Linked DNA regions of Homo sapiens: region 2 is linked to region 1. The links come from fine-mapping of genetic effects on gene expression. A gene starts in region 1. The other region holds a variant in brackets. All regions are shown on one strand. Distances are between the middles of the regions. Region 1 holds the start of TSPYL5 (TSPY like 5). Region 2 has its middle 110 kb from the start of SNORD3H.

The links. PIP is the estimated chance that this variant, and not a neighbour inherited with it, causes the effect. A credible set is the group of variants that fine-mapping cannot tell apart.
Region 2: its variant is the best candidate, but not a certain one, in a credible set for the expression of TSPYL5 in whole blood (INTERVAL, PIP 0.80).

What each region holds. Positions count from the first base shown.
Region 1 is chr8:97,273,621-97,281,957 of GRCh38, reverse strand. It overlaps TSPYL5 (TSPY like 5), which reads left to right and starts at 4,030. Exons shown (of 1, transcript NM_033512.3): 1 at 4,030-8,337. The coding sequence starts at 4,114. The coding sequence ends at 5,367. The region is part of intron 2 of LOC101927066 (a long non-coding RNA gene); the gene reads left to right. RefSeq lists an enhancer at 4,492-4,993.
Region 2 is chr8:97,466,241-97,474,577 of GRCh38, reverse strand. No RefSeq gene overlaps it. Among named protein-coding and RNA genes, the nearest start is that of SNORD3H, 110 kb to the right of the region's middle. The variant A/G (reference allele first, on the strand shown) is at 3,384.

The sequences.
Region 1 (8,337 bases):
TAAGCAATACTCACTGCTATCTAACAGACTTAAACTTTCTCCTTGGGGAAGAATAGAAAAGTGCTGTGGCTAAAAATGTCAAGTCTGGGATCCTAAAGCTCTACGAGAGAAATGATGGGGAATATTGTTCCCTTGGCTGAGGAATAGGCTGGATGACAAATGTCTTTTTCCCAGCTTGTAAATTTCTGTGATTCAAAGAAAACATATCAAAAGGAACGGAGAAAGCACAATATGCAGAAAACAAAAGTGAAGATTTTTTATTCTAATATTTTGAATTACATACACACAAGTACATATGCATATACATACATATAGACATAATACACATAAACATTTGAAAAATATTTTATGAATTTCTAATAAATATTTGCTAATAAATATTACATTAGAAATAATCAATTAAATGCTTATATTACCATCAACTTAAGCCTGCAGATATTGCAAGAAGTTCACAACACTCCAGGATCTCTGAGTTCATGACAGTAAACTTGCATTTCTTTCATAATATTAACAGGATGCTTATGATAAATGCAGTGCAAATAGAGATGCTTCGTTCTCATCATGGGCTGTTGAAACTAAATTTATGTTGAGTATTGCTATGCCAGGTATATTGTATACCCCATAAATAAATGACTCATAACTAAATGATGTATGTATTATGTGTATATGTATGCATCTGCATATGTGTGTGTATATATATTTTTAATATATATAATTTTTTTAACATTAAAAGGTATTTTTACCCACTGGAGAGAGTTTTAATCTCTTAAGCCATAATTTTACATTATGTATTTTTAATTAAGAGCACGGTGCTGGAGTCGCATCGCTTGGGCAAAAAACATTTATTAACTGTGTGACCTTGGGCAAGTTATGGAACCATTTTGTGTGGCAGTAACCTCCTCCAAGACGAGAACAATAATTGCACCTGCCCCATGGGGTGATTGCAGAGATTAAATGAGTTAAGGCATAGCACTATATAAAAGTATGAAATAAATGTAAACTTTCATTATAATTACTGGTATGTGCAAGGCCCCATGCTAGGTACTCTGAGAGATAAAAGTAAAAAGAGACACAGTCTCCACACTTACACAGTTTACTATCCAATTAGGAACACAAACTACAGTTCCACATAAAGTTAAATATTAAGACCCAAGAAGAAAACACAGTCCAGTTCAGCAGCACAGACCAAACTCTTAAATACAAAAGCCATGGGGAACTGGGTGGCTTAGAGCAGAGGGGTATTTTTTTAAATTATTTCCCTTCATCTGATGCTTATCTCTTTGACATGATGAAAAAAGGCTCAAGGCAGATTGTATAATAAACACATTGCAATGGCCCAGCCCTGTGTTAATCCTACAGTGGTTTAGCCATTGGTGACTGCTACATGACGCAGATGCTGACGCTGGATTAAGACTCTTGACAACAGAGATGGGTTGATCTGTGAGTGTTCTAAGAAGTGGGCCAACCCATCAATGTCTAAAGTCTATAGAGGGTTGGCAAATGCGTCAGATGATTTTTTAATTTTTTTTCTGAGGTTTACGGAGAGTTTCAGGCTGTGATTATCTAGCTTAAGAGGTAATTTTGTAAAAGAACTGGTACAAAACAGGGTGTGCCCCACTGCCAAATGAATACTATAGTTAACAAGTACTCTGTGAGATCAAGGACAAGGCTGCTTATTGTGGTCTGGGGTGATCACAGAAGGCCTTGGGAAGAAATTATTATGAAAGGGCCTTCAACAAGAATTTAAGATAATCCTTGCACTAATTAATCCCTTTTAAGTCAAATATTAAATCTCCCAACTTAATTTTTAAATTTGTCACTCTAAATTCTTACTTACAGACTGTCCCTGAATGGTGCTCTGTAACAAAAGATAATTTTTTGGCTAAATTATGAGTTTAGTAGGTTTCCATGAGTTGATCTGAGAATACAGCATCCATAGCATTGCTTCTGTGGGAAAAGGGGAGCTATTCTGAACTTCAGACAATCATTTACAAACCCATTTTTGAAAACTCTGCTTTGATTGGTTCTTTCTTTCAACAAGTATTTATTAAGTGCTCTTGATATGTCAGACACTGTTGCAGGCACTGAGGATACATCAGTGAACAAAACAAAAATCTCTTCCCTCATGGAGCTGACATTCTAGAGAGAAGAGATAGTTAATAAGCATAATAAATAATTGGTATAGTGTGTTGGAATAAAGAAAAAGTACCATAGGATAAAGGGATGGGGTGGGTGGCAATTCTAAATAGGATGGTCATTGAGAAGGTGACATTTAAGCAAAGTGTGAAGGCAGCTGGCCAAGGCCACCAACCACATTGGGAAAGAGCATTTAAGGTAGAAGGAAGAGCCAGTGCAAAGGCTCTGAGGCAGGAGTTTACCTAGTGAGTTTAAGAACAGCAAGGAAGCCAGTGTAGCTAGAGGTGGGAGAGAGGAGAGAGAAGATGAGGTCAGAGAGGTAACTCATGTAGTGGCAGATAGAAGACTTGCCAGATCATACAGGGCCTTGCAGGCTATTCTAGAGCTTTTGAGAAAATGAGGAATCACTTGTATTAGGCCGGCTTAAAATAGGGCCATCTGTATAAAAATAATTCCTCTTTAAATTGTTTCCTTAAACTTAGGGGTGTATACAAATCACCCAGGATCTTGTTAAAATTCAAATTCTGACTTAGTAGGTCTGGGGAAAGGCCTGAGATTCTGCATCTTTAACAAGCTTTCAGGTGATATCAGGCTGCTGGTCCACAACCACACTTTGAGTAATGAGGTCCCGGGGCTTTTGGGCTTATCTCTCCACTAGCTGGTTACAAGGGCCTTTTTGTTCCCTTTGAGCCTGAAAAGACCACCTCAAAAGGTTTTTCTTTATATTTTTACATTAGCCACAGGTCCCCTCACTGTTCATGGTCCTATTACCTCACTAGTAAGAGCGTGGTCCAGGGCTGCCTCCGGGACTGTGGGGGAGGTTGTCCGGCTGTTTCCATGCACAGTGTAAGAAGTTTCTAGGGCTTCTGCAGTGCCACGTGGAGGCTCTGCTTCTGAACCTCAATCTGCTCCCTGAATAATAATTTCACCTCTCACCACATTCTTGTCTTACTCCAATTACAGGAGCTCTAATACAGGTCTTCACTTCTGGTCCTATACCTAGAGTGATAGTCCAGATCTGTAAACTGAGGCAGCTGGGGGACTCGGGTGATGTTCCCAGGCAGAAGAGGTGGTCAGGTGGTCCACGGAAGCCTGTTTGTTAAGGAGCAAGGCTGATTTCTTAAGAGCCAGCCCAGTAATTGACAGTGGAACAAGTCTGGAAGGACTTGCCATTTCCAAATATAAGGCATAGGATACGGAGTCCCATGGGCTTGAGTTTGAATTGTGCTTCCATCCCTTACTGTGTAACCTGGGGAATGTGCCCGGGTGTCTCTGAGATGCAGTTTTCTTATCTCGAAAATGGGAATGATATCAACACCTCCTTTGTAAATTGAGATAATGCATTTAAAGCACCTAGTAAAGTGCCTGGCACAAATGATACAAAATACTAGTTGCCATTATTTTTATAATTTCTACTATCATCTTACTGCGTACCAAATCGCTTTGACGCCCGGCATTATAGCATCCACCTTTACGTTCTCTGGAGTTAAGGTACCAGAGCAAATCCCTCAGCAAAGGTGTTCAAAGAGAGACACACACGCCCGAGCACTTTCTTCATGACAGATGCCACAAGAGATAACTGGAGGAGCTGAAGATGTTTAGTTTAGAAAACAGGTGATGGGGGACAGGTGGTGATGGCTCTTAGCGTTGCCTTGTTCAACGAGACCCTGAGAGCACGATGAGCCCGCGCGGAAGAGATGAAATGGCAGCACCCCCGCGAGCGCATATCAGAGAAACTCGCCGAGACCTAAAGCGAGTCCGCGCGAGATGGGGGTGGGAGCGCCCGCGGGGGTCGTCTCCTGCGCAGCCGCAGCGGCGGCGCCAATCACCGGGCGCATCACGTCCTCTCGCGACGGTACAGTTGTACGTTCGTGACGTCGGCGGTTGCCGTGGAGAGACCCGCTCGGTCCCGACCGAGAGCTGGCGTCAGGAGCCGCAGGGTCACAGCGTGTCTTTGAAGCTGCCTCCGCCGCCACCATGAGCGGCCGAAGTCGGGGTCGAAAGTCCTCCCGCGCCAAAAACCGGGGCAAAGGCCGCGCCAAAGCCCGAGTCCGCCCTGCTCCGGACGACGCCCCGCGCGACCCGGACCCTTCACAGTACCAGAGTCTCGGGGAAGACACCCAGGCGGCACAGGTGCAGGCTGGCGCGGGGTGGGGTGGCCTGGAAGCCGCTGCGTCCGCGCAGCTCCTCCGGCTCGGGGAGGAGGCCGCCTGCCGGCTCCCCCTGGACTGTGGCCTCGCGCTGCGGGCCCGAGCTGCGGGGGACCACGGGCAGGCCGCGGCCAGGCCCGGCCCGGGGAAGGCCGCATCTCTCTCGGAGCGCCTGGCCGCAGACACTGTCTTCGTGGGAACAGCGGGAACCGTGGGAAGGCCGAAAAATGCCCCCCGCGTTGGAAACCGGCGTGGCCCTGCCGGGAAGAAGGCCCCAGAAACCTGTAGCACCGCGGGGAGGGGGCCTCAGGTCATAGCTGGTGGGAGGCAGAAGAAAGGGGCGGCAGGGGAGAATACCTCGGTGTCAGCTGGGGAGGAAAAGAAGGAAGAGAGGGATGCAGGGTCGGGGCCCCCAGCGACGGAAGGCAGCATGGATACGCTGGAGAACGTGCAGCTGAAGCTGGAGAACATGAACGCCCAGGCGGACAGGGCCTACCTTCGGCTCTCCAGGAAGTTTGGGCAGTTGCGACTGCAGCACTTGGAGCGCAGGAACCACCTCATCCAAAATATCCCGGGCTTCTGGGGGCAAGCATTTCAGAACCATCCCCAGCTAGCATCCTTTCTGAATAGCCAAGAGAAAGAGGTACTGAGCTACTTAAACAGCTTGGAAGTGGAAGAGCTCGGCCTTGCCAGATTGGGCTACAAAATCAAGTTCTACTTCGATCGCAACCCGTATTTCCAAAATAAGGTGCTCATCAAGGAATATGGGTGTGGTCCTTCTGGCCAGGTGGTGTCTCGTTCTACTCCAATCCAGTGGCTCCCAGGGCATGATCTCCAGTCCCTAAGCCAGGGAAACCCAGAAAACAACCGTAGTTTCTTTGGGTGGTTTTCAAACCACAGCTCCATTGAGTCTGACAAGATTGTGGAGATAATCAACGAAGAATTGTGGCCCAATCCCTTGCAGTTCTACCTTTTGAGTGAAGGGGCTCGTGTAGAGAAAGGAAAGGAAAAAGAAGGCAGGCAAGGTCCAGGAAAGCAGCCAATGGAGACTACTCAGCCTGGGGTGAGCCAATCCAACTGATCCTGCACAAGTCTCCCTGCTACCTCCTGCTGGGCTGCTCCTGGTTGACTACATATTTGGCTCTCTGCCTTCTCTTCATGTTGGCCTCTGTGTACTATAGACCCTTTGGACTTTAGTTACAAGAATATGGCATTTATGATCATGTTCTTTTGCCTCCCATAGCCTCTTGCTTTTCTACGTTAGTGTCACATGTTATGTGATCGCACCCGGACTGTTCATATGTTAAGCACACATACTTTAGATGTGTGCTCCCTGTTATCTACATTGCCTGGACCTTGTTCTTGGCTCTGGCCTTTCCTACTTGTCTTTAACATGGACACTCATGAGTCATCCTCCAGGACGACCAGTGCATCCTCAAGCTCTGCTCCTTCAGGGCCAGTGACTTGCTGGGCTTCGTGTTCATGCTGGCCATGCATGTCATCTATGCAAGCGTTTCCATTGCCACTGCAGAATGAAGCCAGTGCACATGGTATTAGTCATCAGCCAGAACTTCCTGTTCTGTGGGTCTGGGGTCACCAGCTGAGATGTCACCTGCTTTATTTCTGGCTTTGGCCTGTGGTCTGTGATACCCATCCTGCTTGATGTTCTGCAGAATGGCACTTGACTGCTGGGCATGCATGAAGTTAAGGGCAAGAAACAGTATGCCATGTGTTCTGTACCATCATGTGTCTCTTCTTGCTTCTGGGCCCTTCTACTGGTGAACTTTCATCAAGATCTGCGCCATGCCGTGTCACTATCAAGCCATTAAGTTTTGTCTGGGTTGCTGTCAGCCCCAGTTGGCTTCCTGGTCAACAAGGACCTCAAGAACTGCCTGTGGACCGAGGCCCCCTACCAGTGCATGAGACACACACCTACCCTCCCCAGCTTTCCAGGAACCCTACTGGCTGCCAGACTGATGGGCGGGCTGGTATGTGTGGACATGTGTTCACTGTCATTATGCTGTGGCTCCAGGTGAGGGTGAGGACTGGGCCTATATAGAATCCAGATACCATTGTCAACTTCCCTTATTCCCGTCTAAGATGTGAGCAGAGTGCCATAGTAGGGGTTCTGGGAAGAGGTATTTCTGATTTGTGGGCCTCTGCTTGCTTGACTTCAGGTCACTTATACTTCTTATTTTGCTTGCCTGCCTTCATCCCTCATTTCCTCCCTCTCATTCTTCTTTCCTCCCTCCCTTTCCTGGTAGCCTCCTTTCCTCCCCTTCTGCCTTCCCCTTCCTTCTTTCCTTATTCTTTTTTATTTTGTTTAAATAGTACCACAGAGAAAACAACTGAAAAACCACATTTTTCTACATACAGCTGGGGAGGTAGCTGAGAACTTGGCACTGCGCACACATACTAGGTTGAAAGAGAGTTGAGGAAACCAGAAGGCCAAGTGGATCTGCTGGCAAACCCTGAACCTGTCTCCTGCGCTTGCTCTACAGTTCTGAAGTTGAAAATCCTTTTCATGCCTAGCATCTGCTTGAGTTATAAACCCCAAGGCAGCCATGTCATAGACTAGTGTTTACTCTTGTTTTGACTTTGTTTTAATGCTTCCTAAGACCCAAGTGCCTCCTGCTGTTTCCTCCTTTGTGGTAGCCTCTGGCCATCTGGACCTCAATCCCCAGCTTTCCCACTTTCAGCAGTCCTTTGCTCTCTTTGCTTCTACCTCAAATAGCCCCAGGAGTGGGCTTTAGTCTCCAATATGGAGCATCTCAAGCTTCTCCTGGGGGATGGGGATTGGGATGGGCAGAATCTGTTTTGGATCTCCGGGTTATTTCCAGTGGGTGTAAAAGCAGAGCTGGGCCTTTCCCTCTCTTATCCCTGAGGGTGGGTAAGAAGGACTGTATCTACACCTGTTCTTCCCTACCTTCTCTTTTGTTAGGGAGGCCTCATTCTAAGTTCCTCAAGAGAGTCCTTGGCTTAAAGCTGTAGCAAGGGTGTGCTAGGTGGGGGATTTGGAGCAAAACCGTCGAGTAGGCATGATACTGGTATGGAGTGGGCCTGCAAAATCAGACAGAAATGGCTTGAGAAGCCGCAGGGGGAGCATGCCTGTCTCTCAGTGATAGAGTATGGGAGGGACCTCCCTAGCTTGGAAAATGAGAATTGAAGGGGTTATGAACAAATAGGATGCCTAGTTGAGGATGTTCCCAAAGTTTTGTCCAATCTTATCATTAGTAGATTTTATAAGCCACAGAGACAAACCAGAAACGGAATAATGTTACTTTGGATGCTTTATTTTTTTGTTCTAGGTGTGGCTTTGTACATGCAGAAGAATGCTATATGCTGCACATTTTGCCTTTAAAGTCTTACGACTTTCCCCATTTTAGTCTAATGGGAAGATACAGATGTGCAAGTCTGCTTTTTTGTTTTTTGTTATTATTTTTTTTTTTTTGCTCTGTGTTATGGACATTTTCAGACATGCACAGAAGTGGAGAGGATGGTCCTTGGACCCCATGTGTCCATCACCTAGCTGCATCACTTATCAGCTATGGTCAACCTGGTTTCATCTGTATCTCTCTCTTTTCACCTGTATTGTTTATTGAAAATCCAAGACACTATGCCAATGCAACCGTGACTACTTTGGGAGATTGGTAGTCTCTTTTGATGGTGATAGTGATGGGGTGCACTATCATAATCACATCAGGTCTGCTTTTTGCTTTTAATGTTAACTAATGAAGTTCCAGAGATGGGCCTTAGAAATGTGTTTTAAGAATTAACAAGGAGTCTCAAAAAGAAATGAGAGGGATGCTTCCTTTCCCTTGCATCTACAAAACAAGAGAGAGACTGTTCTGTTGTAAAACTCTTTCAAAAATTCTGATATGGTAAGGTACTTGAGACCCTTCACCAGAATGTCAATCTTTTTTTCTGTGTAACATGGAAACTTGTGTGACCATTAGCATTGTTATCAGCTTGTACTGGTCTCATAACTCTGGTTTTGGAAGAATAATTTGGAAATTGTTGCTGTGTTCTGTGAAAATAACCTCCCCAAAAT
Region 2 (8,337 bases), 190 kb before region 1:
TGTCACCCAGGCACTGGGGAGAAGTAGAAAAGTCTAGACTCGTCTTTCCCTTTGGGTAATAAATTTTCAGTATTTGAAAATTCCCATTAAAAAAGCATGAGGTTTATTTCAGTTCCAAATCACATCTTAGTATAATTTATAGTTTAATATCTAAGCTATTTCACTATTTTCTTCAAAAAATATAAAAAGGAGGAGGGTGGCACCAAAAGGTAGTAGATGGTAACAAGAAAACTAGCAGGCAAAATGTGATTTTCAATGCCTCTATCATTCAGGAGAACTTTAAAAGGAGGAAGGACATCAATGCAATATAAAAGCAGAGAAATGGATTTGTTTCTGATTTAAAAAACACATTCCTGGGACAATGCATCATCTCTATGTGGCAGTTTTCTGCCTGAGGGGGCACGTTGAATCCTAAAAGGTTTATACCAAAAAAAAAAAAAATCTAATAACTCCAAGTCACATGCTAGCAGTGGGATTGTAACATATCAGTGAAACATAATCGTTGCAGGGAGCGAAAAGAACTTCAGCTTTGAATCTGACAGACCTGAGTTTGAATTTACTAGTTGTGATATCATAAGAAAGTATTTTAAACCCTTAAGGCTTCAGTTTTCTCATCTGTGAAAGGGAATTAAAATTTGTCATGTAGAGTTGTTGCAGGAGTTGAATTAGAGAACATATGGAAATTAACTAGTTGTGTGCCTGGTACATAGCAAGTGCTCAATTAAAGATAATTTAAGAATTGTATCTAATGAAATTCTGGGAATTTTGGCAATTCTTTGACTTCATCATATAACTTCTGTCATATCATCAACTTCCAAGGCACATGTGATTAAAGAAAAATACAAATTGGAGTTCCACTGCTAAAGCTTCTGCATTTTATTCTTAGATAATGGTCTAGGTATAATGTTGTGTGTGACTGCTCCCCATTTCTTGGTTTGTCTACAACCTCAACTCATGAAGAGTATGGGCACAGGAGAAACATATGTCATAAGCGAAGAGTAAGAGAGGGCAGGGAAGATTGGGGTGCAAATAGCTCTTGGACTGTAACTTGTAAAATACTCTACCTGTGGAGGCTGCTTGATATAGAGGAAGGGTCATGGGCTTGGAGTTTGACGAGTGTGGGTTTAAATCCTTACCCTGACATATATAACCAGTTGTGTAAACTGGACAAATTTCATTACTCTGAGCTGCAATAAAGCATTAAGTATAAACATTAAATATAGGGTTGATGTGAAGATTAAATGAAATGCTCTGTATAAAGTTCCTGGTGTACTATTGTATGCTCACAGTAAATGACACAGGAATTAGCAACTCTTGAAAACAGCTTTGAATACTGTTGGGTCAGTAAGTTTAGGCTACGATTAACTTGCTTGAGGCAGAGAACAATAAAAAAGAATATAGAGGAGGGAGAATAAAAGCAGATGGATAAGGAGAGGGAAACAAATGGAGGAAAAAAATGAGAACGATAAAGGAAAAAGATGAAGAAATTATTAAGGAAAGCTTTCTATAGGACAGGAACAGAGAAAGAGAACTTTGAGCTGATGTCAAAATGTAACCACTATGATTTATACGTACAAAAAAATTAGTTGAGCTCATATTGTTCTGACCAAAAATTTCAACTGATGTAGGAAAAAAGTCACCTTAAATTTGCTTAAATCTAGTAACTGGGGTTTTCCGGTATAACATAGTCCTTTGTGAGTAAATATGTAGTTAACAGAAAGCACAAGCTTCCTAGAGGGCCTCTTTCAGCTCCTCAAGGTGTTTTCCCTTTTTCCTTCTCAAGATGGTGAGGCTGATATCTCATGGGCTGCAAGAACCGGGGCCTGTGGCTCGAGACCCTCGCCTTCTGGTGCCGAGAATCTTCCCGGCCCTGTTGGGTCATAGGACATCTGATACTGATGTTGCTGAAGGATGGCTCCTGCCTGTTAGTGGAAGTAAATGGTCCCTGCCCAAGCCTTTGGGGGATTAGCACCACAGTCTGCAGTCTTCCTGCCTTGCTTCCACGACGATTCCAGCTCTTTGAGTTATCACTTCCGCCGGACCCCACTGGGCTTCTGAATCCCTTCACACCAAGCGCAGCCATGGGTAATCGGAAGTGGAACTGTTCACCCAGGCCCTTCTATCCTTGCTGCTGCCTATTCTACTGCTCCAGAGCTTGTTAATGGTGGTGCCAGAGTGAGTGTGGAACTTCTCCCAGAGGCTTTGTCCGGCAAACTGGATATTCTTTAATCCCTTCCAGCCCATCTTGTGCTGAGATTCTGACTCCTTTCTCAGGGACTTCAGTAACGTAGTTATCTTAATCTGATCTCTTGTGACTGGTCCTCAAGATTTTTGGCTTGAAGGCCCCTTTATACTCTTAAAAATTATTGAAACTGCAAAGAATTTCCGCTTAAATGGGTTATTTCTATTAATATTAACCACATTAGAAATTAAAACTGTTACTGATTTATTTAAAAATAAAAAATCTCATTACTTATTAACATAAATTACATTTTTAATGAATAACTATATTTCTGAAACAAAACAATTAGTGAGAAAAGTAGCATCATTTTACATTTTTTGGAAACCTCTTTTATGTTTGGCTTCACAGAAGACAGTGTCTGTTTCAGCATATATCTAATGGAAGATATATGCTTCAACATTTAAACTGTTAATGATAATCATATGTAGCCTCTGGAAAACTCCACTGTACCTTCCTGAAGTAGACACAGTGTAAAAAGCAAATAATGTCTTAGTAGAATCATGAAAATAGTTTTGGCCTTATGCAGCGCCTGAGAGGATCTTGGGACTCACAGGAGAATCCAGACCACTTTGAGAGCTGCTGCCCTAAAACTTTCTCCCTGCCCTACCAAAAGGTTTTCCACATTCCTTTCCTGTCTGATGAGAACCGCTCTTTAGTCATATCCCCCTTCTTCCCTACTGGCATGCTCCCTTGCCTTCCCTGGGCTGTAGGGAAGGAAGTTGGTGAGGAAGATTAATTGAAAGGAGAGGATGGCTGAAAGTGAAATGTTTTTAGGGCAGGGAATAGCAGAATGTTCCCCATTAATTGATGAGTGGGGCATATGAATGTTCCACTATGCCTAGCCTGCCTAGCAAATACTATGTTCTTTCAGCCACGTTTATCATGCCTCTTTAACTCATGAGACCAGCTCACTTTCTTGATGGCCAGTTCACTAGTTTGTCATCATCTTGCTTTGGGGAACCAAGGCAGAAAAAGGTCTATGTTTCCTTTTGCATAATGATAAACATGTGTCACATACTGTGTCTAATAACCAAGATCTATAAACTCAATCCAGGGTGATAAAGCTAAATGATTTTTTTCAGTGTCTTTCATGCCAGTCCTCCTTCCCCACAACATCATCAATCAATCAAATTGCTCTTGT[A/G]GTTTGTTATGTTGCTATGGCAACATCTTCCTGCACAGTTAAAAATAAAACTTATGTGCTCCTCCTGAAATTTGGAGAGAGCAAGAATCTAATTGCCTGGCAGTCCTCACCATGGGAAAACTGATACCTTGGCAAAGGCTATCCAGCCACTTTGTACTGGAGAGTGGAGATGAAAAGCAGCCACCGAGTTCTGTCTCTGTCTCTTGGGATACTACCCATGAAAAAGTGAGGCTACCTTTTGCACAGCTGCATTGGTGTTTTTCATTCCCAGTTCTTAGGCTCGACATCTTGACAGACATCTCTGCAGTTTGGCAAATCTGTGGGGAAGAGAGCAAAAAAATATCAACGCAGAAGGCTGCTTGGGAGTTTTAACTGCTCTCATGGACACTTTAGATTGCTTAATAAGAAAAAGATGTCTGCAGAGATTTGGGTTGTCTCATAGACAGACCCTGAGACAAGGATTCAAGGCAAGTAGTTTATTTAAGAGGTGCAGGGAACATTAGGGGTGGGAGTGGAAAAGTAATATTGAGAAGAAAAGACAGCCAATAAGGGTGTGTTATTAACTCAGCAACTACTGTGGGTGACTAGGGCTTAATTCTGCAGGAAATCCCTGAGAAGTCGGGTAAAACACTTGTCTTTGAATTCTATCTGAAGAGTGAGGGAGCTGGGGTATTTATACACTGACTCCCAAAAGTCTTTGGTTGAAGGCTATTCCCAAGGGTAGGGTATTTCTTCCTAGCACTTTTGTTCTGCCACTTGGTGGGGAGCAACACTTTGGTTCTATAAAAAACCTGCAGGAACAGAGATGCAGATACCTGCAGTGAGAAGGCTGTGGATAAAGAGTAAAAGTGGGACATTGATAGTGTCAACTACGGGTGCTTAGATTGGGGATTTTATTTTGGGAAGGTAAAGAAATTGTGTTGACACAAGCTTTTAAGAACCTAGCAGCAATAATAGTGAGTGTGAAAATAATAAAAGAACAGAAGGTGTTTAAAAAGTAGTTTTGTTGTTGTTTTAATTAATTTGTCTTTGTATTTATTTATTTTAAGACAGGGTCTCACTCTGTTGCCTGGGCTGGAGCGCAGTGGCATGATCATGGCTCACTGCACCCTCAACCTCCTGGGCTCAAGTGATCCTCCCACCTCAGTCTCCCTAGTAGTTGGGGCTACAGGTGTGTGTCATCATGCCCAGCTAATTTTTATATTTTTTTGTAGAGATGCGGTCTTGCCATGTTGTCCAGGCTGATCTCAAATTCCTGGGCTCAAGCGATCCTCCTGTCTCGGCCTCCCAAAGTGCTGGGATTATAGGTGTGAGCCACCACACCCAGCCAATTTAAAATACCTATTTTAAAAATATAGGTATTTTCCTCCAGGATGCCAGATCTTTGAATGGATGTTTACATCTTCACTATCATAAAATGGCTTCTTCATCCTCCACTGAGCCCTTGGAACTCTAGTTCTTCAAATCCATGCACTTCAGTCCCAAATAGCTTCATGTTACCATATTAATGCAAACTACCTTCTGTATGTTTTGCTTTTTGATTTTGCTTCTTTAAAACTTTTCTAAAGATGACTCCCAAGTACAGTATCTTTGAATAAAGTGACTGGAGTAACTAAAAGAAGATAACCCAGAAGGAGTGTTAGTAATAACTCACAGTTATTGAGTGCCTGCTGTATGCTAGGCACTGTACTAACTGATCTCCATAAATCATTTTGTTTGAAAGTCATAATCACTCACTTGGAAAGGTACTATAACCGTCCCCATTTTACAGATGAGGAAATGAAGATGCAGAAACTTGTTCAAGTTTCCACATCTAGCAGATTTAGGAGCCAGCATTTAAATCCAGGCTGTCTGTTCCCAGAAAATGTCTTTAGTCAACTTTATTATCTTTTATTTTACTTTCATTAGTACTTTGAAATCAAAATTGTTACTTGGGATTGACATTTTTCAATATTTAGATGGACTGTAACACAAAATATATTGGATTATCTAGGACTAACCCATCTGCAGTTAACCAACCCTGGTCCTGGCCAGGAAGCCATGCTGCTTAAAATCAGATATTCAAGAGACTTGTACTATCATTCTTTTTCCCCATAAAGACAGAAAACTGGTAATATTTGTCCTTAAATATTTATCTCAGGTTAAATCTGTTTCTTTTGTACTTCATGGTGAAAACTCAGGGGCTTCAATTGATTTCAGTTTTTCCAGGCTCCTAAGAGGATGCTGCTGGAGAACAATTTTGCCTCTGGCTAAACAGAGCCCCAAAAGATTGATTTAGCTAATCTCTAGTAAAGGTGAAAAGCTCTTTCCATAGATAAAATAATATATTTTAATTTATCTGCTTTGGGTGCAAAAAAAGTGACTTAGACAAATTACTTTAGGTAATTCACCATTTACTTGAAGGGTACATACACAGAGAAAGCTAGGAAAAACTGAAGAACCAGACAGGAAAGGGCAGGACCCATAGAGTGGAGAGAAGCAGAATGATCTGAATTCTAGAGCTTGGAAATGCACGTGGGTCAGCCCCCTCTGGAAAACACCCTTGGATCCTTTTTGCTCAGATTTCTCATCTTTATCTCCATGCACTCATCTGCCTCAAATCTTCTGCTTCTCATAGCTTCTGTCCCAATCTCAGTATTTTTTGTTTGTTTGTTTGTTTGTTTAAATGATGAAGAGAGCCAATCAGAATGGACAAGTTTATGTTTTCAAGCCAAGCCATGTGATGGGGCTCAAGACATGCTACCCCAAAATATGGCAGCTTGTCATTTGAGGAACAGAAGAAGCAGGGAGGTCACTCTCACCTTTTCCTTGCTCCTCTTCCCTTGAATCAGGCCATAAAACCCAGCTAAACTTTCCCTGAAAGAGGTCATAAAATTATCATTCCAGAAGTGCCTGTCCTATACCTAAAGGAAAACAACATCCTTATCTCCGAAGACACGGACCCAGAGAAGTATCTGAACAGCCTTGCTAAGTTTCCCCCAGTTTATTGCTATTAGATCATATCCTATTATCCTTCGATCTTACCTCTCCTCAACCATCTACTCTTCATCAAACGTAAGCATACAAATACATATTTCCCTATTTCTTTGGGTCTTCATTTCTGAAGGTGCCGGAGCCACATAAAACATCTATTAGATAAATGTGTGTGCTTTTCTCTTGTTAACCTGTCTTTTATGATAGGAGCCTCAGCCATGAACCTTGTGATGGATAAGTAAAAGATACTGCTTTTTCTCCCCTACACATATCATGGGCCTAATTGGCCTATGGCTTATTGGCCTTTAAGTTAGGTGACTGCCCCTGTCCAGTTAGCTTTGGCTAGGTACATGTGGTACAACCCCTTCAGCAAAGATGTCTGCAAGGGCTCTGGGCAGGGCAAGTATCATGATTGAGATCCACTGTGCTGCTTTTTGATTATCTTAACCAAGTGGCATCTGGCTCTTTGCACTTCTGTTATCAAAAGCATGCAGGTCTGATTTTAGGTGTTGACCAGAAAATAGACACACTCAAGGGAGCTCAGTCTTTAGTTGTCTGTTAAAGACACAGCCACAGTGTTTTATACTTGACTAAGGTTATCTAACAGAACTTCTAATAATCTAATCTTTTAGATTTTCCAGGCTATATCTCCTCATCAAATTACAGCTCCAGAAAAATCACATACCTGGACTATATTAGTTTATTTCTCTGGAGAACAACCTTCATAAAATGATTATTTAATATGATCCCCTTGAGGTTATATGAAATGTTCATATGAAAAAAAGTTTGCTTCCCTAAAATTGCCTTAAAAGTTGCCTATTGTTGTTTAGTGTTCTTTATATAAGGATTCATACAATAATTTTCTCTTAGATTTTAGTACAAAAGAAAAAGCTTTGTTTCTGTTTTAATAAGTGAGAGTTATAATGTTCACCAAATTTCCTGTTTGCCACTGAAAAATCTAAAACAAGATTTAGGACTCATTTATAGTAACTCCCCTTAGCCTGGGCTTCTAGTATAATAATCTTCCTCTTCTCAAGTACATACTTATGATATTTTCTCCTTATTTTATTTATTTATTTGTGAGACAGGGTCTTGCTGTGTTGTCCAGGCTGGAGTACAGTGGCACAAACATGGCTCACCACAGCCTCTACTTCCTGGACTCAAGCAATCCTCCTGCCTCAGTCTCCTGAGTAGCTGGGAGTACAGGCTGGCACCACTATGCCTGGCTAATTTTTTTATTTTTTGCTCCCCAGGCTGATCTTGAATGCCTGGGCTCAAGTGATCCTCCTGCCTCAGCCTCCCAAAGTGTTGGGATTACACACATGATCCAACAAGCCCAGCTGATATTTTATCCATATTTTAATGATTGAGAAGTATATATGTTTATTGTCTCAACCACCTCAGGTGCTTTTTTCAAGTAGCTAGAATACAAATAACAAATATGGTTCAATATATAATATTCTCATTTCATAGGGAAAATGCTAATGATTTTAGAAAAATATTTGGTGTTTTAGGGGGTCTCCAGACCAATGACTTTTTATACTCAACATATAGTAAATGAGATATTAGTTACCACTGTGCTTGTGCTACTAAGAAAATGTCATCAGGGCCCTTGGAGCAATCTGATGATGTATTTTTGTTGTAGAAAATTTGAATTCAATAGAGTTTGCACAAAGATTTTTGTTGAAAGGGGAAGGGCTGAGCTTGATGGCCACTAGTGAAGAATTATTCATTTCGATAAAGGAATCAAAGAAAACTTGATAGTAACTGGCTTTTTATAATTGATGTTTTAAGATGCTAGAGGCTTTTGCTAGTTACTTTATTTTTCTTATTTTGTAATTCTTATGTTTGTTCTAGAGTGGGTCCTTTTTTTCTCTTTTTCATCTTTATTGAGGTTTAATTGACAAATAAAATGGTGTATATTTAAGGTGTACAACAATGTTTTGATATATGTATACATTGTGAAATAATGACTGCATCA